7 linked regions of the Homo sapiens genome follow. The protein of the gene in region 7 purifies or fractionates together with the protein of the main gene of each other region. This does not show direct contact. Each region holds a gene or a part of one and is shown on either strand. Other genes may lie near its edges.

Region 1 (3,500 bases), on a different chromosome or scaffold from region 7:
TTGAGGCTGCAGTGAGCCGTGACCTCGCCACTGCCCTCCAGCCTAGGCAACAGAGCGAGACCATCTCAAAAATAAAAATAAAAATAAATTCATATCAGTTTAAAAAAGGAGAGGATAACTTAAAAGGAACATGAAGTAAATAATACTACAAGTGGCAACAATTATGAAAGTGGCACTAGAAGTTTTTGAAATACTGAGCTAGAAGGTTTTTCAAGTCCCTCTCACTCCTAAAAGCGTTGTTGGTACCGCGTCAGGCTGCAGATGGCATCCCAGGCCCCTTCCTACAGGGTTCCTCTCAAACGCTACCTCCTCACTGCAGCCTCTAGCAATTCAGCAGCCTCACTAGAAGTTACTCCCTCTGCTCTGCTCCCAGACCGTGTTTTACACCCATGGACTGTAGCATTTATTACTCAATATTATAACCATCTTTACATGTTTATCTCCCCTCTAGAACATGAGCTCCTTCAGACAAGAATTATGTCTTGCTATTTTATCCCCCAAGACATCTATTACGATGTTCTGTGTCTGATACAAAGTAGGTGCTTGATGAATGTGTGCTGAAAAAATGAATCAATGCTTCTGCTCCTTTTTTGCTGAAGAGAAGACACAGACAGTGGAAGAATTGTTGCCAGAGATCCATTTGCCATCATTCCAACCCAGCGCCCCTTAGCACTTAAGCTGGATGGCAGAACACTTGCCTTTCTGGCCTAGCTTTGAGTACTAATTTAAATGAGGATTCATTAAGTCATTTTAAAGAGGCCCCACCATTACGAAATGTGTGGAAAATCACATTTTTCTTCAAGAAACTTAACAGGATCAAAAAGAAACCAGTCATCCCAGTACAAAGCCAATTATAAAGGTACCTATTCGTGTTTTATTATTTTTCTTTCTTTATTTATTTTTTGAGATAGGGTCTCGCTCTGTTACCCAAACTGGAGCGCAGTAGTGCAATTATGGCTTACTGCAGCTTCAAACTCCCAGGCTCCAGTGATCCTCCCACCTCAGCCCCCCAAGCAGCTAGGGCTACGATGCACACCACCATGTCTGGCTAATTTCTGTATTTTCTGTAGAGATGGGGGAGGGTCTCACTATGTTCCCCAGGCTGGTGTCAAACTCCTGGGCTCAAGCGATCCTCCTGCCTTGACCTCCAAAGTGCTAGGACTATAGGCATGAGGCACCATGCGCAGCCTATAGAAGTACTTTTGACTTCTGCAACATAGACCAGAACTGGGTAAATATCTGAGAACATTCCTTCCACATTCTTCTAGTGCCAGGATGTAATACTGGAAAATACTAGGCTTGATTGGTGACATGAAAACCCAAATAGAGGTTTCACTCTTGTCATAAATGACATATGAATACAAAGTGCTGTACCATGTAGAAATGAAACACATGTAAGAGGATAGTATTAAACCAGAAAAAAACAATAAGAAAGGTCCTATTTCAAATTAAGAGGTTGCCCCTTCTGAAATATGAGGCTTGCTCAATCACATTCTTCATGTTATTTTGGGCCTTGGGCCTATACCTAGCAGGTAGACTGGAAGAATCCTTAAGCCACATAGGAAATGATATTCTTTTAACCAGAATAAATCTGTCAACAAAAAGGTACAGGCTAGCTGCACTAAATACTCTCTGCAGGTTCTTATTAAAAATATAAATTAAGGTCCAGCATAGTCTCTTTACTCCCCACATCTGTTTGCTATTCTATCTCCATTATTAATACTGTAATGCTGGGTCCCCATTCAGGCAAGATTAATTCCCTCTTCCCAAATCCTTCTGCTGACACTGCAATGAATCCATTTGGAAGGCTGTAAAGGCAGCTGCAGACATTGCTCCCAACACGTGACCAGCGAAGAGATGAAACCTGGGCCTCTGAGCTTAACAAGAGAGAAGAGGAAGTTGGGTTAGGCCTGTGTTCAGAGAGGTGGAATAGCCCAGTGGTTAAAAGCTCAAACTCTGAGGCTGAATACAGTGGTTCACGCCTGTAATCCCAACACTCTGGGAGGCCAAGGCAGGAAGATCGCTTCAGCCCAGGCATCTGAGACCAGCCTGGGCAACATAGTGAGACCTCAACTCTACAGAAAATTTGAAAAATTAGCCAGGTGTGGTGGTGCATGCCTGTAGTCCCAGCTCCTTGGCAGGTTAAGGTGGGATAATTGCTTGAGCCCAGGAGGTTGAGGCTGCAGTGAGCCATGACTGAGCCACTACACTCCTGCCTGGGTGACAGAGCGTGACCCTGTCTCAAAAAACAAAACAAAAAAGCTCAAACTTTGGACTCAAACAGCCCAATTCAATCCCAGCTCTTTTACCCCTAGATCTGTAACTTTAGCAATTCATTTAACCCCTCAAGAGACTCATTTTTCTTATCTATAAAATAGGAATAACGAGACCCTGATAAGATTGTAAAGCATTTAACACAATGACACGGAAGACAGTAAGTACTAAACAAAGGGAAAAAAGGCTATCATCATCTTCTTTATGATACCATCATCATCTCCAGAATTGGTCGCTATGCAAAGGCAGGACAGGACGAGTCCTGCTACTCTTTCAACCTGCCCAGGTTAAGCAGCCACCACCAAGATAGAAAAGACATGGTATAAGGGGCAAAAAAGTACAAAAGGCAAAAACCAGAAGAGGATATGACAATACAAATAAAATCAGCTCTTGATTAACCATGCTAATGAGGTTGAGGGAAGACTATTTATTTTATTTTTAATTGACAGAATACAAACATAGAAAGATTACATTTAAATTGAAGAAAAGAAACTCTCCATCAAAAGAATATAAATAAAAAAAACTTTGTTTATTTTCATTATTATTATTATTATTATTACTTTTTTTTTTTTTTTTGAGATGGAGTTTCACTCTTGTTGCCCAGGCTGGAGTACAATGGCACAATCTTGGCTCACTGCAACCTACTCCTCCCAGGTTCAAGCAATTATCCTGCCTCAGCCTCCCTAGTAGCTGGGATTACAGGCATGTGCCACCACGCCCGGCTAATTTTATTATTTTTAGTAGAGACAGGGTTTCTCCATGTTGGTCAGGCTTGTCTCAAACTCCCAACCTCAGGTGATCCGCCTGCCTCGACCTCCCAAAGTGCTGGGATTATAGGCGTGAGCCACCACACCCAGCCTAATTATTATTTTTTTAAGACACAGTTTCACTCTGTTGCCCAGGCTGGAGCACAGTGGCACGATCTCAGCTCACTGCAACCTCTGCCTCCCAGGTTCAAGTGATTCTCGTGCCTCAGCCTCCGGGGTAGTTGGGAGTACAGGCACATGCTACCATGCCTGGCTAATTTTTTGTATTTTTAGTAGAGACAAGGTTTCACCATGTTGGCCGGGCTGGTCTCGAACTCCTGACCTCAAGTGAGCCACCTGCCTCAGCCCCACAAAGTGCTGGGATTACAGGCATGAGCCACTGTGCCCAGCCAAAAAAAATCTTTTTAAAATATAGATGGTAGCAGGCCGGGCACAGTCGTCACGCCTGTAATCCCAGCA
Region 2 (4,189 bases), on a different chromosome or scaffold from region 7:
ACTTTCACAAAGTTAACTTCTGAGATTAATTAAAAACCCAGAATTTTATTGAAAGATGTATTGTCAAATTGTATATTAATAGATTCCAGATGGTTTTACAAAGTTTGACGTTACAGTGTAGGACACATAAATTTTCAGTGTTGACAATTATTACTGGCAATGTGATGCAAATTTGTGGTATTAAAAAGATATTCAGGCCAGGAGAAGTGGCTCACACCTGTAATCCCAAAGCTTTGGGAGGCCAAGGCAAGAGGATCACTTGAGGTCAGGAGTTCCAGACCAGTCTGGGCAACACAGCGATACCATCTCTACCAAAAAAAAAAAAAAAAAAAAAAAACAAATTAAAAAATTAGCCTGGCATAGTGGTGTGTGACTGTAGTCCTAGGTACTCAGGAGACTGAGGCAGGAGGATTGCTTGAGCTCAGAAGTTCGAGGCTGCAGTGAGCTATGATTGCACCACTGCACTCCAGTCTGGGCAACCTAGTGAGACCCTGTCTCGGATAAATAAATAAATAAATAAATAAGGCTAGGTGTGGTGGCTCACACCTGTAATCCCAGCACTTTGGGAGACCGAGGCAGGCAGATCACTCACGATCAGGAGTTCAGAACCAGCCTGGCCAACATGGTGAAACCCTGTCTCTACTAAAAATACAAAAAAACTAGCCAGGCATGGTGTCAGGCGCCTGTAATCCCACCTACTCAGGAGGCTGAGACAGGAGAATCACTTGAACCCGGGAGGTGGAGGTTGCAGTGAGCCGAAATTGCGCCACTGTTCTCCAGCCTGGGCGACAGAGTGAGACTCTGTCTCAAAAAAAAAAAAAATTTTTTTAAATTAATAAATAGGTAGATGTATAGATAGATATTCACTTTCAACTGAAGTCTTTATCGGAGCAAGATTTTTTTTAAGGTAGATTATTCTAATATTCCCTTCTTTTCTTCATGTTCTTTACATTATTTTTATGCCTGTATGGCATACAAGACCGAAAAAACATGTGGATGATCAAAATGACCCCATTTGCTTTTACTATCACCATAGTTCTTCCTAAAGTCCTCATTGACTTCCAGGTTTTGGTTAATATCTTCAGGGACAACTCAGTGTCTCACTGTTTCTGCTTCTGAACCTAGGGATCCTGTCCTCTTGAACCCTGGAAGTTGTCTTGACCAGTCAGAGAACTGCGTTCCCCACCCCTTCCCCTTTGGAAACGTCACACTGTGGAGGAAAAGCAGCAACTAGGGAGCTGGTGAAGAAGGATGTCTCAGCAGTGTTTACTAGGCCTCCAACACTAGAGCCCATCCCCCAGCTCCGAAAAGCTTCCTGGAAATGTCCTTGTTATCACTTCCCCTCTCGGGCTGGGCGCTGGGAGCGGGCGGTCTCCTCCGCCCCCGGCTGTTCCGCCGAGGCTCGCTGGGTCGCTGGCGCCGCCGCGCAGCACGGCTCAGACCGAGGCGCACAGGCTCGCAGCTCCGCGGCGCCTAGCGCTCCGGTCCCCGCCGCGACGCGCCACCGTCCCTGCCGGCGCCTCCGCGCGCTTCGAAATGAGGGTCCTGGGTGGGCGCTGCGGGGCGCTGCTGGCGTGTCTCCTCCTAGTGCTTCCCGTCTCAGAGGCAAACTGTGAGTAATCAATAGCGTCTCTTCTCCCTTCCCCAGCATTGTCGACTGAACTGCGTGCCCTGGTTGGTAGGATTTTCTTCTCTAGAGCTGCAGCCTCCTAGAAAGTTTCCAGTAAGTACCGACAGACACCCAGCGGATGGAAACAGCCGTGGATAGAGCAGGCAGTGCAATGGTGGGGCAGGATCACTATTTGCACAGTTGCGAGAATGTATTGCCTACAGGACAGATCTAAGAACCTAGATGACACTAAGTATCAATGGAGGGATGAGAACACCTGCCCATTTCCCTTCAAAGCTGAAGTTCCCAGTCAGAGAACTAGGATGAGCAGATTCTAGCTTATGAGTAGGGAAGAAAAGGTAACACACTGTGTCTTCCCTTTGTCCAAGCGCCTGCCCCCAACCTGCACCCGTCTCCTGAAACCTGCCTCCCTTTTGCAATTTCTGGACTTTGAGCTTGGTTTGCTTGTCTCACATTAACGAAATGTTTTAGGATGACTGAGGGTTTGTATAGCAGTAGATATATGTCACTTTCTAACCCTGAAATCAAAAGGACTGTTAAATACTGTATTCTATTTCTCAGATCGTTTGTACTGAGGATTTTTTAACACTGCATGCCACTGATCTGAGGTGGTGGCATGAATTCTTTATCTTTGTGTTTCAGGTTCTTTATGTCCTTATGCCCGGATTCAAGACAGGATATTGAGTTTTCTCTGAAAAATATATAAGGAATACCAAGGCAATTAGTACATTTTAGTGGTCAGTTAATTTGTTTTCTAAAGTTGTAAGTGTGTTTATTGAATAAAAACGCCTTTTTGTTTGTTTGTTTGAGGGTGAGTCTCGCTCTGCTGCCCAGGCTGGACTGCAGTGGCTGGATCTCCGCTCAATGCAACCTCCGCCCCCCGGCTTCAAGTGATACTCATGCCTCAGCCTCCCGAGCAGCTGGGATTACAGGTGCCTGCTTCGACACCCGGCTATTTTTTTTTTTTTTTTGTATTTTTACTAGAGACGGGGTTTCACCATGTTGGCCAGGCTGGTCTCGAGCTCCTGACCTCCGGTGATCCATCCGCCTTGGCCTCCCAAAGTGCTGGGATTACAGGCGTGAGCCACCGCACCTGGCCAAAAATGACTTCTTGTTCTATGTTTTATTTTCAGGGATTGGAACAGGAGTGAGAACTCTGAATTACAAATAACTTTTAGGAGTCTAGAGCTCCAAAGTAAACTTTTTGAAGATGGAAATTTCTAGAAAATTATATATCAATTTGCTAACATTCCACTAGTTTCTATTAGTTAGTCATCAGGATGAATGCAGTACTTTAAAAATCTAACTTGGGACTAAAACATTATTTTTTGATCTTACATTAAACAGCTACAATTGCAAAACTTCAGCATTCAAACCCCTATCATTCAGCCAATTTGTAACTACATGCGCTTATTACCTAAATAGTTCATTAGGACAATTAAATATTTGCTTCATAGCTAGTGTTTTGGAGAGGAGAAAGGCAAAGTAGCTTGCCACACTTAACTCCTTGTCATCATAGAAATTTGCTAGGCTTTTTCTCTTTGTAGAGATTGTTACATTTTGACTGAATCTAGGCAGAGGTAAAAATTATATGGGTTTGTGTATGTGTATTATATATAAACATATGGGGAATTACACTTGTTATATATAACACTGATAGAGCAGATAAATTAATTCTTCAAGTATATCACATAAAGAATAGTTGGCCCCATAATGCTTTCAGTTAAAAGTTTTTGATTGCTTAATTGGATTAAAAGTCATCTGTGGTTTACTTATGAGGAAATTTGGATATAGATGTGATGTTTTTAATCCATATGATTTGATTTTACTTTATTTTTATTTATTTACTTTTTTGAGACGGTCTAGTTCTGTCACTAAGGCTGGAGTGCAGTGGCATGATCATAGCTCATGGCAACCTCCCCCTCCCGAGCTCATGGGATCCTCCCAGATCAGCACCTATCTAGCACCGCACCCAGCTAATTTATGTGTGTGTGTGTGTGTGTGTGTGTGTGTGTGTGTGTGTGTGTGGTTTTTATTTTGTTTTGTTTTTTTGGTAGAGTTGGTGTTTTGCCATATTGCCTAGGCTGGTCTTGAACTCCAGGGTTCAAGCGGCCTGCCTACTTTGGCTGCCCAAAGTGCTGGGATTACAGGTGTGAGCCACTGTGCCCAGCCTCCATATGATTTTAAATCTGAGATATAATTAGAGCTGTAAATATTTTATTTGTAATTCATTGTGTAGTTCTTTATTTAGAATTATTTATTTATTTATTTATTTATTTATTTATTTATTTATTTATTTAGAGATGGAGTCTTGCTCTGTTGCCCAGGCTGGAGTGCAGGAGTGCAGTGGCGTGATCCCAGCTCACTGCAACCTCTGCCTCCTGGGTTCAAGTGATCCCCCCACCTCAGCCTCCCAAGTAGCTGGTATTGCACCAGCTGGCATGCACCACCATACCCGGCTAATTTTTGTATTTTTAGTAGAGACAGGGTTTCACTATGTTGGCCAGGCTGGTCTTGAACTCCTGACCTCCAGTGATCTGCCCACCTCAGCCTCCCAAA
Region 3 (3,500 bases), on a different chromosome or scaffold from region 7:
ACACCCCCAGGGGCTCCATCAGTCCTGGCTAGCTCAGCACCATGTTAAATAGCTTCCTTGCAATCTCCCTTAAATAAACCCATCCCCAGAGCAACCTACCCACCCTGCACCCTGAATATATTATCCTATTGGCTTATGCCTTCTAGACTGGAGGCGCTCTCTCCTCTTGCCCTCTACTCCAGGGGATACCATCTCCCTAAAAAACCAGGGGAGGAAGTTTTTTTCTCAACTCTGGGGCAGAGACAAAGGGTGGCCTGGGTTGGAGTGGAAAAGCCAGGAATAGCTTCCTCTGTCCCTTCCCTCCCCAGGGTACTTCCTTCTCCTTGCCCTCTTAGCAGCCTGGGTCAGGCGCGACTTACCCAAGGTCACAGACCCAGGACCCAGAGTCATGACCCATGTAGGAGGTTACCCTGGTTTTGACAGCCCAAACCAGCTCCAGGGCAGGAGGACTGAACTTAAGCCTGCCTCCACCTTGGCCCCTGCAGTTCTCCAGGCTCGGAGTGAGCTGAGGGAGGTTCCAGCTCTTGACTCCACTCTGTCCCGGACCCCTGGGACTATCTCCCAGGACCCTCCACCCCTGGTGTCTCCAGGTCTCTCTTGCTCTGGGGATACTCAGACAGCACCAGGCATGGAAGCAATGGGGCCCGGGACATGGGCAAGCCTGTCCCTGGCCCGATCAGCATCTGGGCCCAGGCCAGGCCTCACACCCAGTACTGGCCATTCTTAAGGGCAGGGTTGGGTGTCCGGCAGAACTGCAGCAGCTCTGGGTCAGGCTGGCCTCCTGGAGGGGGCCCCTGGCCAGGCACAGCTGTGAGCGGGATGGCCTGGCCTGGCTCCACCTTGCGAAAGGTCTCGGTGTCACCAGCCAGGCCGTTGCGGGGCTTGGCAGTCAGGACCTGGACGTCATGCTTGCCCGTCTTGTTGCGTTTTCGGAGGTAGAAGAGCAGGGGCAGGATGAGCGCCAGGAGCAGAAGTACCAGGCACATGGGGATGATGACGCTGAACATGTTGGCCTCAAGGAAGCTCAGGAAGCCTCCCTTGGCCACAGCGGGCTCAGGGCTGGATGCCATGGGGCCTGGCTCGCCTGTGGGGGTGCTGCTCTCTGGCTTCCCTGCTTCCGTCCGGGCGGCCTCGGGGACACTGAGCAGGGCCACGCTGTAGGGCCGGGCAGCATTGTAAGGCTCAGTGGCAAAGTCCAGGGAGGCCACAGCAGGCGGGACGCCCTGTGCCCACAGCTCCAGAGTGAGACTGTCACCTGCGGGGCCGGGGGCCCTCCCCTCTGGCCTGCCCACCTCCAGCCCCAGCCTCCCGTCCTCAAGGTCCTGCTGAGTGAACTGCTCCACCAGCTGGCTGCCCCCGGGCTCCGTCCTGGCTCGGGGCACGCGGACCACGCGGCCATGCCGGGGTCCCTCCAGGAGGCGGAAGCGCGGCACACTGCCTGTGCGGTTGGCCAGCTCGCCAGCATCTAGGACGGTGGGGTCCAGGCGCAGGGTGGCACCCTGGGGCCATGGCCCACCTGCCCACACATGCAGCAGAGCCCTCACAGTGACGTTCACTACGGCTGATGCATTGACACCCCTAGCCAGTGCCAGGACTCTGAAGTGGTCATGAGAGGAGGAGAAGTTGGTGAAGGCAAAGACCACCTCGCCCTGGTCTATCTGGAATTGGCTGAAGGCCGAGGTGGGCCGCCCGCCCACCAGGAGATGCCCATACTGGGGTCCCTGGATGAGGCGGTATGCTGCCTCTGGCTCCTCCCGATCTGAAACCACCCGGAGCTGCTGCTGGCTCAGTGAGGAGCGCCCCAAAGCTTGGGGCACCTCCAGGGGTGCCCGCAGCTGCACCTCGATGGCGGATGGTAGGATGTCCACAGCCAGGGACATGGGCAGGGGTGGGCTGGCCCCATCAGACATGCTCAGCTGGAAGATGCCTGCCACGCTGCTCCCGTTGGCCACGAAGGCCAGCCGCCCTGAATCCACATCGGCTTGCGTGAAGCGGGTCACGGGCCCCAGGCCACCACCCACCAGGCTGAGGAAGCCGTTGTGGGGTGCCCGCTGGACCTCGTACTCAATCTCCCCAGGAGCTGAGTCTGGGTCCACCACACTCAGCTGGGCCCGGGAGATGGGGGCACGAGAGCCTCGGGTGAGCCGGAGTGGGACAGAGGCCTGTGGCTGAGGGGGCCGCTCATTTACATCCCTCACCGTGATGGCAAAGGCCTCTGAGGTTTGGGGTCCAGCCACGGAGGCCCCTGCTGGCCCCTGGAGGTGGGCACGAAAGTGGAAGCCATCCTGCTGGGTGCCCCCACCGCCGTGGGCATACACTAGCTGCCCTGCAGCCAGCTGGGACTGCAGGAAGTGGGGCTGCCCAGCATGGAGGGGCTCCTCGGACACCAACAGCTGGCCCCGGCTGGGGAACTGTGTGACCTGGAAGAGCACATCATGCTCTGAGCGCTGGGGTGATGGAACGCTGGCCAAGAGATTGGAGGCATCCAGAGCAGCCACGGTGATCCTGGCCCGCTGGCCCTCGGGGACCCAGAGACCTGGGGGTGGGACATAGGCTATGAGGGTCCAGCCCACTGAGGGGAGAGTGATGGACCCTCAGCTGGGGGTGCCTCAGGGCAAGGATGTGCCTCCCCCCAACCATCAAGCCAGGTCCTCCAGGGTGGGGCTCAGGGTTCCCAGGAGGATAAGGACTATGTCCCCGCTGTGATGTCAAAGCTTCCCCACTCACCCTCCCTGTGACTTCCCAGGTCCTGGGGGCTGAGACAGGAGCTGCTGACCCTGGCCTCGTGTCCCCTCCTCCTGGGCCTCTCCCATTGTCCCTCCCCACAATCTTGCCAGCTTATCATGCTGTTCACCTTTGTTCTTCCAGAGGTGGCTGGGGCGCTGGGGACAGGCAGCCTCAAAAGACACAGCCACAGCAAGGGTGGCGGCCACGTCCCGGGCAGGCGGCGAGGACAGCTGGAGCTCTAGGGTATCATGGGCCTCCCAAAAGGGCTCGGGGGGCATCTCATGCTCATACAGAATATTCCCAGCGTAGACCTAGGGGAGACACCATCGTGGGGTGAGAGGCAGGTCCAGCCTGTGTTGTCCAGACACTGAGCACTTTTGTCTCCTCAGGCCCCACTCTGGGCTCTCCTGGGTGTGCCCAGGTCTGTGCGTGTGACCCGCTGTCTCCCTCACTAACTCACTGGGTCACATCAGGCAATGCAGTGCAGAGCTGGGCTCTGGAGCCGGAGCCTGGGCTCAAACCCCAACTCTGCCACCCTGGGGAAATCGCCTAATTTCTCTGACCTCTGGGGAATGCAATGATCTGTCTGTGCTGCTCTCTAAAGCGAGTACTTCCTCTTGTGCACAGGATCCTATCCCCTCTTGCCTTCTGAAGACACCACTTCTACTGTCTCTTGGCTTTCTCCTATGGTGTCAGTTCCCCCCAGATGCATCATTCCCTTCATTATGCAACTATGCTATTCTTTTGTCTCACTTACATTAAAGCTATTTAAT
Region 4 (2,803 bases), on a different chromosome or scaffold from region 7:
ATGAGTTCAAGGGGCAGTTGCAGCCTGTTCTGGGAGTTCTGGGAGCAGAGTAAAGGGGACCACCCTGCAAACCCCTTCCCTCGCCAAGGCCTTCAAGGAAGGATCTGACTGTCCCCATCTCTTCCTTGAGAAAGTTGGGTCACCTGGGGAACCCATGAGACTCTTCCAACCCCTAAAACACTCCTGCCTCCACCTTGCCAAATCGTTACCATCTTCCAGCCTCAACCCACACCCCAACTCTTCCAGAAAGCCTTTCCCAATACATGCAGCCTGCACATCCCTCGCTCTGGAACCATCCAGAACCCTGCCCGGCACTTCCTATTACAGCCTCTTCATGTTGAAAGATACTTTGGAAGTGAAGAGCCTTCCAGATGTCTGATTTCATTGAGTCAGGCTTATAGCTGCAGGAATGTCTGCTTTTTTCACTAATAGTAATGATACTAAGAATGGCTAACAGCACTATGTGCTAGATGCTTGACATGCAAGAATTCACTTCGGTCTCTTAAGTAAGCTCATTTTATAGCTAAGGGAGTGGAGGCACAGAGAGGTCAAGCAACTTGACCCATGGCTGCACAGCAGGTAAGTAGCCGAGCCCAGATCTGAAGCGGGGTTCCAATCTCCACCCCATCTCTTGCCTTCGCGCTGGCTATTTCTGACTGGCTTACTACGGTTGCAGCTATGTCTGTCTCATTGTCTTGGGTGCAGAAGTTTTATCTCATCCTTCCCTAGTAACATCTTCCTTCTCCTCCTTCCTTCCTCAAATGGCTGAGCACACAGTAGGTGCTTTCGAAGTTCTTGTTCCAAGATAGGCCACTGCTAGGGTGTGGGGACACTTTCTGACATCAGGTGGCAGCATTGGCCAAAAGTTTTCTCCAAACTCTGGGTCTCATTAGTCAAGTAAAAACTTAAAACGTTTATTTCTGGTAGAAATGATAAATACTTTGCACTAAAAATCTGGAATTCAAGTTTTCCTCGTACTTCATGCTCCCTCCCTGCCCCAGAACCTTACAAAAATATTTCTGTGTAGAGAGGGAAAGAGCTGGTGCCTGCTCTGGAGGCAACGTCCAGGTCCGGGAAAGGCACTCGTGGTCTGTGATCTGTCTCAGTGATGGGAGGTCTCCACTCGCCCCACAGGCAGCCTCGGGGCCAGAGATGAGAATATGCTGTAATCCAGTACAGGGGCTGCGTCGTGGGTCCCCAACAGCTCCTTCTTTGGGGATAGTGAGCCCCTTGTTGGGGAGTAGGAAGGGACTGAGGGGCCAGCTCCTTCCAGATGTGTGCATGGGGAAGGGAGTTGTGTCTGGGGAGGTGGGTGTCCAGGTATAGACTCCTTTTAGGGTCTAAACGTTCAAGGAGTTCAACAGAACAACCAGAGGCCATCATGTTTTGGCAGCTTGCAAGTGAACACTCCAGGGGAGATGCAGGAGGGAGGGGTGTAGATCTGGGGAGCCCTTCTCTCCCTCTCTGCCCGCAAGGAAGGCACAGGGTGGGAATGGGGGTGCCTTCATGAGACCCCCTGCCATGCCACACCCCCTTCACAGTCATGTGAGATGGGGCCAGAGGGGCCCAGGCTCTAGGGCCAGGGGAGTGGGGAGGGAGGGAAATAAGGCCTCAGGTGGGGGTTGCCACCCCCTCTAGTGGCTGGTGAAGAGCAGTGGGCCCAGAGCAGCCACCCGCCAGGTTGCTCCCACCCTAGCCTGGGTAGGGATCCTCATCCCAGAGACACAGCTGCCTCTGGGGCACGTAGAAGTCGAAGCTGTAGCTCTTCTGGCAGCTGCGGATGCCACACTTGTAGGGCGTGGGCCGGTCGCGGCTGTGGCAGTACTTGAGCATGCAGGGGTACCAGGCCAGGCTCAGGCCATAGCGGCAGACGCAGGGCTTCCCGTGGTCCCCCACCTGCCTGCAGCGAGGCAGCTCCGCCTGCTCTGAGGCCTTGGGCAGAGCCTCGAACACAGAACTGTCCACACCTGGGGGAGAGAGGCAAGGATCAGGGAGGGAGGGAGGGAGGGAGGGAAGGAGCTCCCCTAGTCAGAGGCCGCTGCCATTCCCCACTTGGTCTCCTCTGTCATCCCACAGGCATTTACAGACACCTCCATTTCCAAGCTTGCCATGGGACACAGAGGTAAGACCTGGTTACTAGGCTCCTCCTTGCTGGGCTCGTGGGAGAAACAGATTAAATAGGAATCACCCTCCTCTATGGCATCAACTGTGTGCTACGGGCTCTACTTACAGTACCTCCATCAGTCACCCCATGGGCTAAGTATCGTCATCCCTGTTTTAGTGATGAGAACATCGACCCAGAGTTTAATGATCTGGCCAAGGTTTCAAGGCCTCCACTAGACCACACTGCCACCCAATGCTTTAAAAAATCACCATACCGGAGTGTGCTGAGATAGAGGCGTGGGGAGACAAGGTTGGAAGTCAAGGAAGGCTTCTTAAAAAAGGTGACATCTGGCCGGGCACAGTGGCTCATGCCTGTAATCCCACTTTAGGAGTCTGAGGCAGGTGGATCACCTGAGGCCAGGAGTTTGAGACCAGCCTGGCCAACACGGTGAAACCTTGTTTCTACTAAAAGCACAAAAATTAGCTGGGCACAGTGGCGGGCACCTATAATCTCAGCTATCCTGGAGGCTGAGGCAGGAGAATTGCTGGAACCCGGGTGGCGGAGGTTGCAGTGAGCCGAGATCGTGCCATTGCACTCCAGCCTGGGGGACAACAGTGAGACTTTATCTCAAAAAAAAAAAAGTGACATCTGAGTAGGGCTAGGCAGAGAAGGGCCAGCAAAGCACACCCACAGTGGGGC
Region 5 (3,500 bases), on a different chromosome or scaffold from region 7:
ACTGGTTAGCTATATGGAATTAAATAAATTCCTATTTATTGGTGTGTGTTTTAAGATGCAACAGACTAGAACATGTTGAAGGCTGTTGGGTGGATGTTAGCGGAAAGGAGGAGAGGGAGATCAAGGTACAGTAGAAAAAGTGAGAAAAAAATGCGGACAGGGCTGGGATGCAGAACCCTGGGAGAGCAATTTGCCTCTAAAGGAAGGTCTAGGGTAGTAGACCAACTCAATTCTTATAAAGTAAGATTCTAGAGATATCAAAGATTTTTTTAAGTTATAAAACATACAATTATACAAAAAAAAATGTCATAGAGACCCATAAATTCACTGCCAAGTTAAACAGATGTTAATGTTTTGCCTGATTTGTTTCAGATCTCTGGTTTAAAAAAAGGAATAAAATGCTTGTGCTAATAGCTAAAGCCCACCTTCATATTTAGTCACTCTCCCTCCCGCCAGAAACAACCACAACCCTCACTATGTTTGTTTTGTATTTTTATTACTGATATATATATTACAGACAATAGATAGTGTTTTGTGTTTTAAAATTATACATCAGGAGTATCAACTTGTTTTTTTCACTGATCAGTGTGTTTGCCATTCAATGGCATGACATGGAACTCTGGTTGAGTGATTTTTTTTTTTTTTTTTTTTTTTTTTTTTTTGAGACAGAGTCTCGCTCTGTCACCCAGGCTGGAATACAGTAGTGCAATCTAGGCTCACTGCAACCTCGGCCTCCTGGGTTCAAGCGATTCTGCTGCCTCAGCCTCCTGAGTAGCTGGGACTATAGGTGCCCACCACCACGCCCAGTTAATTTTTATATTTTTAGTAGGGAAGGGGTTTCACCATGTTGGCCAGGCTGGTCTTGAACTCCTGACCTCAAGTGATCCACCCACCTTGGCCTCCCAAAGTGCTGGGATTACAGGTGTGAGCCACCGTGCCTGGCCTGGTTGAGTGATTTTAATGTCTGTATTGTGTTTCATTGCTTACTTACCCATTCCTCTGTTGATAAACAGTTGGGTTTCAACTCTAATGCCCTTATACACAGTGCTGCAATGTAGGTCTTATTGTGAGTGTACAAGAATTTCTCCAGGGAAATACCTAGAAAGTAGAATCACTGGGTTACAGGAGTGTATGTTATTGGTGAATTCAATTTTTTGTTTGTTTTGTTTTGTTTTGTTTTTTGAGATAGAGTTTCACTCTTGTTGCCCAGGCTGGAGTGCAATGGCGTGATCTTGGCTCACTGCAACCTCCGCCTCCCAGGATCAAGCGATTGTCCTGCCTCAGCCTCCTGAGTAGCTGGGACTACAGGCGCCTGCCACCATGCCCAGCTAATTTTTGTATTTTTAGTGGAGACGGGGTTTCACCATGTTGGCCAGGCTGGTCTTGAACTCCTTACATTGTGATCCGTCCACCTTGGCCTCCCAAAGTGCTGGGATTACAGGTGTGAGCCACCATGCCTGGCCCTCAATTTTTTTAATGATTGAAAAAATATATAACCTAAAAGTTATCATTCTAACAGTCTTTAAGTGTACAATTCAGTGGAAACATTCAGTGTTCTATCACCATCACTACTATTTCCAAAACTTTTTTCATCATCCCAAACAAAAATAACTCCTATTTCTCCCTCTCCCAGACTCTGTTCTACTTTCTGTCTGTATGAGTTTCCTGTTCTAGGTACTTCACATGAGTGAAATCATACAAGATTTGTCCTTTTGTGTCTGGCTTATTTCACTTAGCATGGTGTTTTCAAGGTTCATCCATGTTGTAGCATATATCAGAATTTTATTTCTTTTTATGGCTTAATCATGTTCCATTGTCTGTATATACATTTTGTTTACCTATTTATCAATGGATGGACAAATAGGTTTTCATCTTTTGGTTACTGTGAATAATGCTGCGATGAACATTGGTGTACAAGTATCTGTTTGAGTCCTGTTTTCAATTCTTTTGGGTCTGTACCTAGGAGTAGAATGTGCCTTATGGTAATTCTAGGTTTAGTTTTTTGAGGAACTGCCAAACTGTTTTCCATAGCAGTTGCATCATTTTACATTCCTAGTAGCAGTGCACAGGGTTCCAGTTTCTCCACACTACCTCCATCACTTATTTTCCTTTGTTTTCTTTTTCTTTTTTTTCAGTAATAGCCATCTTAATGGGTGTGAAGTAGTATCTCATAGTGGTTTTTGATTTGCATTTACCTAGTGATTAATGATGTTGAACATCTTTTCATATGCTTGGTGACCATTTGTATATCTTTTTTGGAGAAATGTCTATTCAAATCCTCTGCCCATTTTTGAATTGAGTTGGTTTTTGTTGGTGAGTTGTGAGAGTTCTTTATGTAATAAATTCTGAATATTAATCCCTTATCAGATCTATGATTTGTAAGTATTTTCTCCCATCCTGTGGTTGCCTTTTTACTATCTTTTGTTTTGCTTTGTTTTTTGGAGACAGAGTTTCACTCTTGTTGCCCAGGCTGGAGTGTAATGGCGCGATCTCAGCTCACTGCAACCTCCGCCTCCCAGGTTCAAGCGATTCTCCTGCATCAGCAGTGTCCTTTGGTGCACAAAAGCTTTTAATTTTGATTTCCAAGAGTTTTATAGTTTTAGCTCTTAAATTTAGGTCTTTGATTCATTTGAGGTTAATTTTTTTTTCTTAGAGATGGGGGTCTCGTTATGTTGCCCAGGCTAGCCTCAAACTCCTGGGCTCAGGTAAGCTTCCTACTTCAGCTTCTGAGTAGGTGGGATTATAGGGGTGTGCCATTGTGCCCAGCTGCTGATTTTGAGTTAATTTTTGTATGTGGTGTAATTTTTGCATATGGTCCAACTTCATTGTTTTGAATATGGATATCCAGTTTTCCTGGCATCGTTTGTTGAAAAGACTGTCCTTTCCCCATGGAATATTCTTGGTATCCTTACCAAAAATCAGTTGACCATATATGTGAGGGTTTATTTCTGGCCTTTCTATACTATTCCATTGGTAAATATGTCTGTCTTTTTGCCAGTATCACACTGTTTTGATTATAGTAGCTTTGTATTAAGATTTAAGTCAGGAAATGTGAGTCCTCTAACTTTGTTCTTTTTTTAATATTGTTATGGATATTTGGGATCCCTGGACATTCCATGTGAATTTTAAGATTTTTTTTTTTCTATAAAAAACACCATTGGATGCCTTTCATTTCTTTTTCATTCCTAATCACTCTAAAACTTCCAGTATTATGTTGAATAGAAATGAAAAGAATGGCTGTCCTTGTCTTGTTCCTAATCTTAAGGGAGAAGCTTTCAATGTTTCACCATTGAGTATGACGTTAACTGTGGGTTTTTCTTATATGGACTTTATCAATAACTGAAGACATTCCCTCCTATTCCTAGTTGATTGTTTTTTTACATGAAAAGGTTATTGAATTTATCAAGTCCATTTTCTGCATCAGTTGAGATGATCATTTGGGTTTTTTCCCCTTCATTCTATTAATGTATATGACATTGATTTACCTATGTTGAACCATC
Region 6 (3,500 bases), on a different chromosome or scaffold from region 7:
AAGAATGCGAGATAAGACTCTAGGAATGTTTGGAATTTCTCTGATTGAAGTTTAATTCCTTTAATATGATCATTTATGGATATGGTCTTGATATTATTTAGTTTGACAAATATTAACTTTCTCTTGATCAAAAAACCAACTAGCTTCTTTATCATCTGAATTAAAGGCTATGATTTTAGCAGCAAGATGAATCAAGATTCTGACTTCTAATTGGGCATTATTCTTAAAGATTCCATCCTGGGAAACAGTCCGAGGAGAATGAGTTGACCCTAAATGGGAGAGCAGAGCACCTTCCCATTAGGTGGTGGGCAGCCTAGCTGGCTTATTTCTCCTCCTATTCTCCTATTCCAATTCATTTTTCTTTTGCAGGTTCTGTGGATGGAGTTATAAAGGAAGTGAATGTGAGCCCATGCCCCACCCAACCCTGCCAGCTGAGCAAAGGACAGTCTTACAGCGTCAATGTCACCTTCACCAGCAGTGCGTAAAAGTGGCTCTTAACTCAAATTCATGTTACAGCATAACCTAAATATCAAGTGTTGGAATAAGCATGGGAATGGAGGGGAGGGGAATTGGCAGTCATGAATTTTATGATTTCTTTTGCACCTCATGCAAAGCTAGGGTTCACTGTGCCCTTGGACACCCTTCTCATGCAGGGTCCATGGCTCCCAGACTCCCTTTAAGCAAACAGGGAGATGTCCATGTGTTCACAGGTTAGAGAAGACAGCTTGGCTTTTCTGTCTTGACCCATATTGCATAGTAGGCTATGATGGGAATGTCAGCTCTGTTTAGCTACAGACTGCAGAGTATTAGTATGGACCCCAATTCTTTAAGCTTTGGAACTCCTCCAAAATGTTGTTTTAAGCAGTAATGCCTTTCAGCTATTAAGTCTACATCCCACCTGAAAATAAAGGTGCAACTAATACTTAACAGCCTCCTTAAGATTTAGGGAACCCACTGGGGACCCAAGAAATAGCCAAGAAATCTGAGCTTTCTTCTCCAATATTCAAGAAATATCATTGGAACTTTTTGCTTTCTTGTACCACATCACTTTGAGATTTTTAAGAATCTAGACAAATGTAAAATCTTTTATTACTAAGCAGGGCATGTTCCTTGAATCTTTTCCTCATTTTCTGTCCTGTGAAACTAGACTAGACAGTCTAATAAGAAACCTCAAAGTTCCTGTCATCTTTTGTTCATAAGCCTAAAGACAGCTCTAAGTACTAGCTCCCTGTTTCCTCTCTGGACTATACCCTGGCCTCTCTATTGTTCCAAACCAAAAAAAAAAGCCTTCTGAACAAGTCATCCCCAACCCAGACAGAAGGAAAGAAACAGAACCAATTTTCTGGGTCTCCAAAATACCCTAATAACTCATAAGTCTGATTGCCCTCATTTTTTAATACCTTTATTCCTCCTGGCCATCTTGTGATGTGGAGGGTAAAGTTTATAAAGAATTGCATGTCTTTCTAATCTTACCCAATTTCTTTTTTTTTTTTTTTTTTTTTTTTTTTTTTGTGACAGAGTCTCGCTCTGTCACCCAGGCTGGAGTGCAGTGGCGCAATCTCAGCACACTGCAACCTCCGCCTCCTGGGCTCAAGCGATTCTCCCGCCTCAGCCTCTTGAGTAGCTGAGATGACAGGCATGCGCCACCACGCCCGGCTAATTTTTGTAGTTTTAGTAGAGACAGGGTTTTTCCATGTTGGCCAGGCTGGTCTCAAACTCCTGACCTCAGATGATCCACCCGCCTCAGCCTCCCAAAGTGCTGGGATTACAGGTGGGAGCTACTGTGATCCAGCCTAATCTTACCCTGCTAAAGGGTTACCTCTTTCACTGTTGTTACAGACCATGACATTTAAGACACACAATATACTTGGACAGAAGCTGATATAAATAGCAAACAGAAAGTTTACTGCCAAAAATCAGTTGCCTTGTTAGATAAGGTTGTTTATCCAGGTATCTCTGATTCTCCTAAGAAACTGTGAAGGGCCATGAAGAGCAAGGTTAAGAGCAAAGAAAACTTCTGCTGATTGTTTTTTTTTTTTTTTTTTTTTTTGCATAATTGTGTTTGGAGTGAATGCTTGCACTGTGCTAGTACCAAGCACCACTATCAAGAGAAATAGACCCTAGGAATGCTGTTGCTTGGGATTATTTCTGAATTTTTGATTTAGAGTTTGAAAATAGGTTATTTTCTTTGCCATCTGATTCTCTTTTTTTCTCTTAGATATTCAGTCTAAAAGCAGCAAGGCCGTGGTGCATGGCATCCTGATGGGCGTCCCAGTTCCCTTTCCCATTCCTGAGCCTGATGGTTGTAAGAGTGGAATTAACTGCCCTATCCAAAAAGACAAGACCTATAGCTACCTGAATAAACTACCAGTGAAAAGCGAATATCCCTCTGTAAGTGATACCATTATTGAGGACACGGGAGGCCTTGGGACTGGATTAGAGTTCTGAGGGCAGTGGGCAAGAAGCAGAGATGGGGGTAAAGGGCCCCTTATCTCTATGATGAAGAAGAAGCCCGAGGGAAAGGAGATAGGTGCGGTGTTAGGCATCAGGAGGTAGGGCAGGTCTTTTTCTCTGTGTCTCTTCATTCTTTCACTATGACCTGATGGTTAGCCTGGGCCTAATGATGCCATTTGTTTTTTAATATACTAAAATTTAATCATACATAAGAACTGTAATTTAATCTGACAGTAAAACACAAGAAGCAATATTAGAGTTGGTTTAGTATATTGTATATTTTAGCTTTGAAAGTCGTAGAAATCAGTTACCCCAGTTTTTTTCCTATAAAAGACCCATTTTTCCAAAGCATTATGCACAATTTCAATTAGAATATAATGACAGAGGATATTCCATAATTTTTAAAATATAAAATGAGGTAATTGATTCAAAAAAGTTATCTACTGCAATATCAATATCATTACAGATATAAAGTATGATGGTTCAACTTTTTAGTGCTTGATAGGGAGGAATCATGATAAAAAGGTCAATATGAAATCATTTGATTATAGTAGCAATATCTAACATTTGAAATGCATCCATGCTCTTTTGTATAATCATATTAGAGTCAAGTATATTTTCACATCTGTTATGTCTTATTTTCCAAGAGATATACACAGAGCAGTTTTTTTTCTCCAGGGAACTTATACAAACCAATATAAGATCTAAATTCTTCACATAATGTATAAAACAGGAGAAGCCTCTTCAAATTTATTTTTTGAAGTCTGGAATGCTGGCACTTTCCAATTAGGCAATAGTTCTTCATTCCTGTAACCTAGCTCAGAGCTGCTGCTGACTATGGGCCTAGAGCAGCAGACATGATTTCTTTTTAGGCTGTTTCTTTTCCACTGGTGTTTTTCTATTTATCTGTCTGACCAGGTCATAAAATATTTCATTAACATTGACCTTTGACTTTGCAGATTATTCTAAAATGGCACAGTTCCATCACTGTCATGCTAAATTCTGGCCCTGTTCTTTGCCAACTACTCACTCATCTTCCAGGTCAC
Region 7 (4,281 bases):
TCAGGCCAACAGCTTCTCCCTCCCAGCCAGACCAGAGGCTTAGAGGCCAAACAAAGATTTGCCTGTTCCTGCCTCCCCGGCTTTGGGGGGGTCTTTGACTAGACATGCACGCCACCACCCACCCCACCCCCCACCAACACCAAGAAAGAGCTGTTGCATCTTGGTATGGCCCAGGGTGCCTGGAAATGCAGGGGGCTCTGTGATGCTGTCTGGGTTTTGCAGAATCTGTCTCCCTCATCGCACTTGGCCCAGGCTGATATTAAGATTCATCTGCATTCCCCGCGCACCCGCCTGGCAGATGGTGGGGGAGGAGGCTGGGTGCGTGCCGGGGTTGCAGCCACGGGACCAAGCTGGGCCTTGGAGGGCCACAGAGCAGAGTGCCCACCCACCGTGCTCCTTGGGCCCAGCCCAAGCTGGGACCACTTCAAATGATGGGGTGCCTCCTCACCTTCATAGCCTCCAAGGGATGCCAGGACTTGACCTTTCATTTTTCTACAGACTAAAGGGACCCTGGAATTCCAGGAGGGAGACCTGAAGATATGGAGTGGGGGTGATGGAGGATGGGCCCCCATCTTTGGGAATCTCAGATCAGGGTCGTGTTCTTCCTCCTTGCCCTGGAGGTTTGCAGAGACCCCACTGGGACAGGAGCCACTCTCGGCCTGGTGACCCCTGTGGCATAGAGAGGGTAAGTAGTGAATAATGAAGGGACAGGCTCCAGGAAGGCCTTGCTCCCCTCACTCTCCAGCTTCTCAGGACCTGCCCCCGGCCCCAGAATCTAGCCTGGCCCCTAACAGCCTTTTCAGCCCAGGGGCCCAGCCAAATACTTCCTGTCACAGTGGCTGGACCGAGAAGGTCCAGGGATTATCTCAGCCCCTCCAAGTAAAGTAGAAGAGGGAAGGAGCAGACATCATAACAAAAGGAGTGCAGGCTAGACACCCAGAAGGACTTCCCTCAGCACAGGTTTTGGCTCTTAGAATGGGTTTTTTAAAAAAAGGATCTTTCTTAATTCCAGGACTCCTGAGTTGGGGGCAGGGCAGCCGATTCTTGCTGCCCGCTCCCGGGGAACGGGCGCCCTGCAAAAGAGGTGGAAACGGTAGGGTCCGTATCCCCTGGCCACCACCCTCTCCCTTCCTCTCCAAGAGCTACTCCGCCCCCGCGTGCCGTCCTCTCCTGGCTGGAGAGCCGGCGTCCTAGGTCCCCGGGCTGCGGGCCGGCAGGGGAGGAGTTAACTCCGGAGGTACCGGCTGGGCTCACTGTACCTGCCGCCGCCGCCGCCGCCGCCGGTGGGAGGGACGAGGAAGCGGGAGCCGCCTGGGCGCCAGGAGCGCTCTAGTCTGGCGGGGCGCAGCGCAGCGCGGGGAGCGGGCGGCCGGGGCTCCGCGCGGCTGGGGGCGTCCGCCAGGGGGCGCGCCGCGACGGGGCGGGTGGAGCAGCCTGGTTTGGGGAATTAGCACCAAGGACGGGCGCGCGCGCAGGTCCCCAGCACATCTGGGCGAGAGCGGCGCCGCTGGAGCCGAGGGGGGCGCCGAGCGCAGATCTGGAGCAGCAGAGCCACGGCGCAGCTGGGGCCCTTCGAGGCGCTCGGGGCGCACATCTGGGACCTCGAGCGGGGGCCGTGCCGCGCGCAGCTGGACCAGGGGAGGGGGGCGGCGGCTGCACAGCTGGACCGAAGGGGGCGGGGTCGGCCCTGGGCGACCCGCTGAGGGGAGGGCCGCGGGCCGCCGGGGACTGGAGCATGGGACGGCGCGCCTGAAGGAGCAGGAAGGGGAAGGAGGCCTGGGACCCCGAAAAGAGAAGGGGAGAGCGAGGGGACGAGAGCGGAGGAGGAAGATGCAACTGACTCGCTGCTGCTTCGTGTTCCTGGTGCAGGGTAGCCTCTATCTGGTGAGTGGTCCGAGGGGAGCTGCGCAGAGGGGCGGGGGCCCGGAGGATCGGGGGAGAGCGCGGGAAGCTTGCGAGCCCTGAAACTTTCTCCCTTCCCCCGACATCCCGGGGATGGCGGGGAAGACTGGAGGCTGGGGGAGAGGGCGGGTCCGAGGCCGGAGACTGGACAGATAGGGTTAATAGGGGCGGGGAGAGGGTGCTTGGCTGGCCCACCCACTCCGCAGCGGGTGGCTGGAGGTGCGACCAGCGCTCGGAAAAAGGCCTGGAGCCGGGTCGCCAGGGTTACCCTACCCCTTCCCAGAGCCTCAGGACCGCTGAAGCCGGGGGCGAGTGGGGCGCGGGTCGTGGAGCTGGTGACCTGCAGGCTTTTCCCCTGACCTCTGGGACTCAGAGAGCCTCGGGTTCTGGGTCCCCCAGAGCACAGAGCCGGTCCAGGCGGGGGGCGGCCCCCGCGTCCCTCCCCTCCCGCCTTCCCTCCCGCTCCCTCCCTCCCCGCCTGTTGTTTTCCTCTGCTCTCCCGGCTGCGCGCAGCCGGAGCCCCACAGGACTTGGGCAGGCGGCTCCCGCCCCAGGCACTCGCGGCAGCTGAGCGGAGCGCCCAGAGCCCGCTCCCCGTGCGCCGGCTCCGCGGCTTCTCGGCGACCCAGGGCGCCGGGGATCCCCTCCCCGAACCCAGCCCGTGGCTTAACTCCCCTCCGACCGAGCGCCCGCTGACCCTCCCCGCAATACTGTCGTGAAGCCTCAGCCCCACATCTGGACCTGCCCCTTTAATCAACAAGCCCCTTGCCACCGCCCCATGCCACTGTGGGAAGAGCCCTTCCCTTCTCACGGCCCCACCTTTACCCTCCAGCCACTCAGCCGTGACCCTCAGGAGCAAGTACCTACAGGTCTGCAGCCCTAGACCCAGACCCCGAGCCTCCCGTCCTAGCCGTCCCTCTACCCCACCTCTGGGGCCTGGCAGTCAGGGCCAGCCTGAACTGTGGGGCAGAGACAGACTCGGCCACAGCACACAGCTGCCGGCAACACCCAGGCCAGAACACAGGCATGAGGACCCCACAGCCCCTTGGAACCCTACTGTCCCCACCCCAGTGTCACCACCAAATCCAGATGCCCCCCGGTGCTGGTAGTAAAGACACCTAGGGCAAGTGGTTGCTTTCAAAAGCTGAGCAAACCCACAGCCAGGCTGCGCCTCAGGAAGCCCTGTCAACCCCCTGATGCCCCCCACTGCTGTCCCACTCTCCCTGTGGCACCTCCAGGAATCTCCCAGGTGTGGGTTGTCACCACAGCTGATCCAGCAGAGGGAGGATGAGCCCCTGCAGATTCCAGAGGCGGATGGCGCCTGGATAAAAACCCTTTCAAAAAGACACATCTGATCTGTGAGGCCAGGAGTGTGGAGTGTAAAGGAAGGGCTGACCCTATGTGAACTCAGCCTTGTAGTGTTGTAATCTCTGAGCCCCAGTGTCCTTATCTGTGAAATGGGAATAAGAACTCCTACCTCAGAATGCAAGTAACATCGTGGCATGTCATCATCAGTGTACCCTGGAGAGGTGTTTGGCTTTCCATTCCCATGGCCATCCTGGGTGTGGCATTCACTCCGGGTCTCCCCTAGTTCTCTTGCCAAACCTAAACTATATTCGTGCTTGAGAATTACACTGTGTTCTGCTTTCTTATTCCATTGTCTGGTGGTTCTCTTTGCATCTAAGGGTAGAAATTATCCTAGGGTAGGGACGGTGTCTTACCCAACAGACTAGGAAGTCCCAAAAGGCAGGGGCTGGCCTCTCCTGTCAAACCAGGGGCTCTCCCAGGATAAGAATGGTGCTTCCCTGTCTGACTCGGGGCTGTTTCAGAGCAGAGATTATGCCTCCCCCATCAGCCTGGGGATTTCACAGAGGCAGGGATTCTACTTCCTATCAAATTGGGGGCTCTGTCAGCACAGGGATGATGCTTCTGCAATTAGATGGGGGCTCCCCAAGATCAGAAGCTGGGCTTCCCCCATCAGACTGGGGACTCCCTAGGGGTAGGAGCCGTTGTCCCTGGTGCCACAGTTCACTGGAGAGAATTATTGTCGGTCTTTGAGACTTTGAATTTGAATAGTGGCCAAGACAGTGAGGAAAGGACAATGGGGGGGGGGGTGACCCAACTGTCAGAACCTGAGATGTACACAAGCTAGAGTGTACACTTGCCCCCCAGCTTCAGTGGGCAAGACGCAGGAGCTCCTCACCCAGGTCAGAGTGAAGTGGCAGGGACAGGGGTACTGCTGGTAGCGGGGGTGGTGGACCTCCAGGGACAGGGCTCTCACTGTACTCACAACTCCCTCCATAGGTCATCTGTGGCCAGGATGATGGTCCTCCCGGCTCAGAGGACCCTGAGCGTGATGACCACGAGGGCCAGCCCCGG

Evidence for each region.
Region 1: the proteins of NXPH3 (region 7) and SUFU purify together in Homo sapiens (affinity purification with mass spectrometry; 4 studies listed by BioGRID and IntAct, with this or other methods). This does not show direct contact.
Region 2: the proteins of NXPH3 (region 7) and PROS1 purify together in Homo sapiens (affinity purification with mass spectrometry; one large-scale study listed by BioGRID and IntAct). This does not show direct contact.
Region 3: the proteins of NXPH3 (region 7) and CSPG4 purify together in Homo sapiens (affinity purification with mass spectrometry; one large-scale study listed by BioGRID and IntAct). This does not show direct contact.
Region 4: the proteins of NXPH3 (region 7) and OAF purify together in Homo sapiens (affinity purification with mass spectrometry; one large-scale study listed by BioGRID and IntAct). This does not show direct contact.
Region 5: the proteins of NXPH3 (region 7) and OS9 purify together in Homo sapiens (affinity purification with mass spectrometry; one large-scale study listed by BioGRID and IntAct). This does not show direct contact.
Region 6: the proteins of NXPH3 (region 7) and NPC2 purify together in Homo sapiens (co-immunoprecipitation; one large-scale study listed by IntAct). This does not show direct contact.

The regions. Positions count from the first base shown.
Region 1 is NC_000010.11:102,510,472-102,513,971, reverse strand, and holds part of SUFU (suppressor of fused homolog), read right to left. Parts: intron 1-3,500. UniProt on the Homo sapiens protein: Negative regulator in the hedgehog/smoothened signaling pathway. Down-regulates GLI1-mediated transactivation of target genes. Down-regulates GLI2-mediated transactivation of target genes. Part of a corepressor complex that acts on DNA-bound GLI1.
Region 2 is NC_000003.12:93,971,097-93,975,285, reverse strand, and holds the start of PROS1 (vitamin K-dependent protein S isoform 2 preproprotein), read left to right. Parts: upstream 1-1,389; 5' UTR 1,390-1,536; coding exon 1,537-1,612; intron 1,613-4,189. UniProt on the Homo sapiens protein: Anticoagulant plasma protein; it is a cofactor to activated protein C in the degradation of coagulation factors Va and VIIIa. It helps to prevent coagulation and stimulating fibrinolysis.
Region 3 is NC_000015.10:75,674,849-75,678,348, forward strand, and holds part of CSPG4 (chondroitin sulfate proteoglycan 4 precursor), read right to left. Parts: intron 3,039-3,500; coding exon 2,855-3,038; intron 2,537-2,854; coding exon 702-2,536; 3' UTR 1-701. UniProt on the Homo sapiens protein: Proteoglycan playing a role in cell proliferation and migration which stimulates endothelial cells motility during microvascular morphogenesis. May also inhibit neurite outgrowth and growth cone collapse during axon regeneration.
Region 4 is NC_000011.10:120,228,032-120,230,834, reverse strand, and holds the end of OAF (out at first protein homolog precursor), read right to left. Parts: intron 1,968-2,803; coding exon 1,693-1,967; 3' UTR 501-1,692; downstream 1-500.
Region 5 is NC_000012.12:57,700,632-57,704,131, forward strand, and holds part of OS9 (protein OS-9 isoform 1 precursor), read left to right. Parts: intron 1-3,500. UniProt on the Homo sapiens protein: Lectin component of the HRD1 complex, which functions in endoplasmic reticulum (ER) quality control and ER-associated degradation (ERAD).
Region 6 is NC_000014.9:74,483,306-74,486,805, reverse strand, and holds part of NPC2 (NPC intracellular cholesterol transporter 2 isoform 2 precursor), read left to right. Parts: intron 1-369; coding exon 370-477; intron 478-2,218; coding exon 2,219-2,391; intron 2,392-3,500. UniProt on the Homo sapiens protein: Intracellular cholesterol transporter which acts in concert with NPC1 and plays an important role in the egress of cholesterol from the lysosomal compartment.
Region 7 is NC_000017.11:49,574,390-49,578,670, forward strand, and holds the start of NXPH3 (neurexophilin-3 precursor), read left to right. Parts: upstream 1-1,481; 5' UTR 1,482-1,830; coding exon 1,831-1,884; intron 1,885-4,206; coding exon 4,207-4,281. UniProt on the Homo sapiens protein: May be signaling molecules that resemble neuropeptides. Ligand for alpha-neurexins.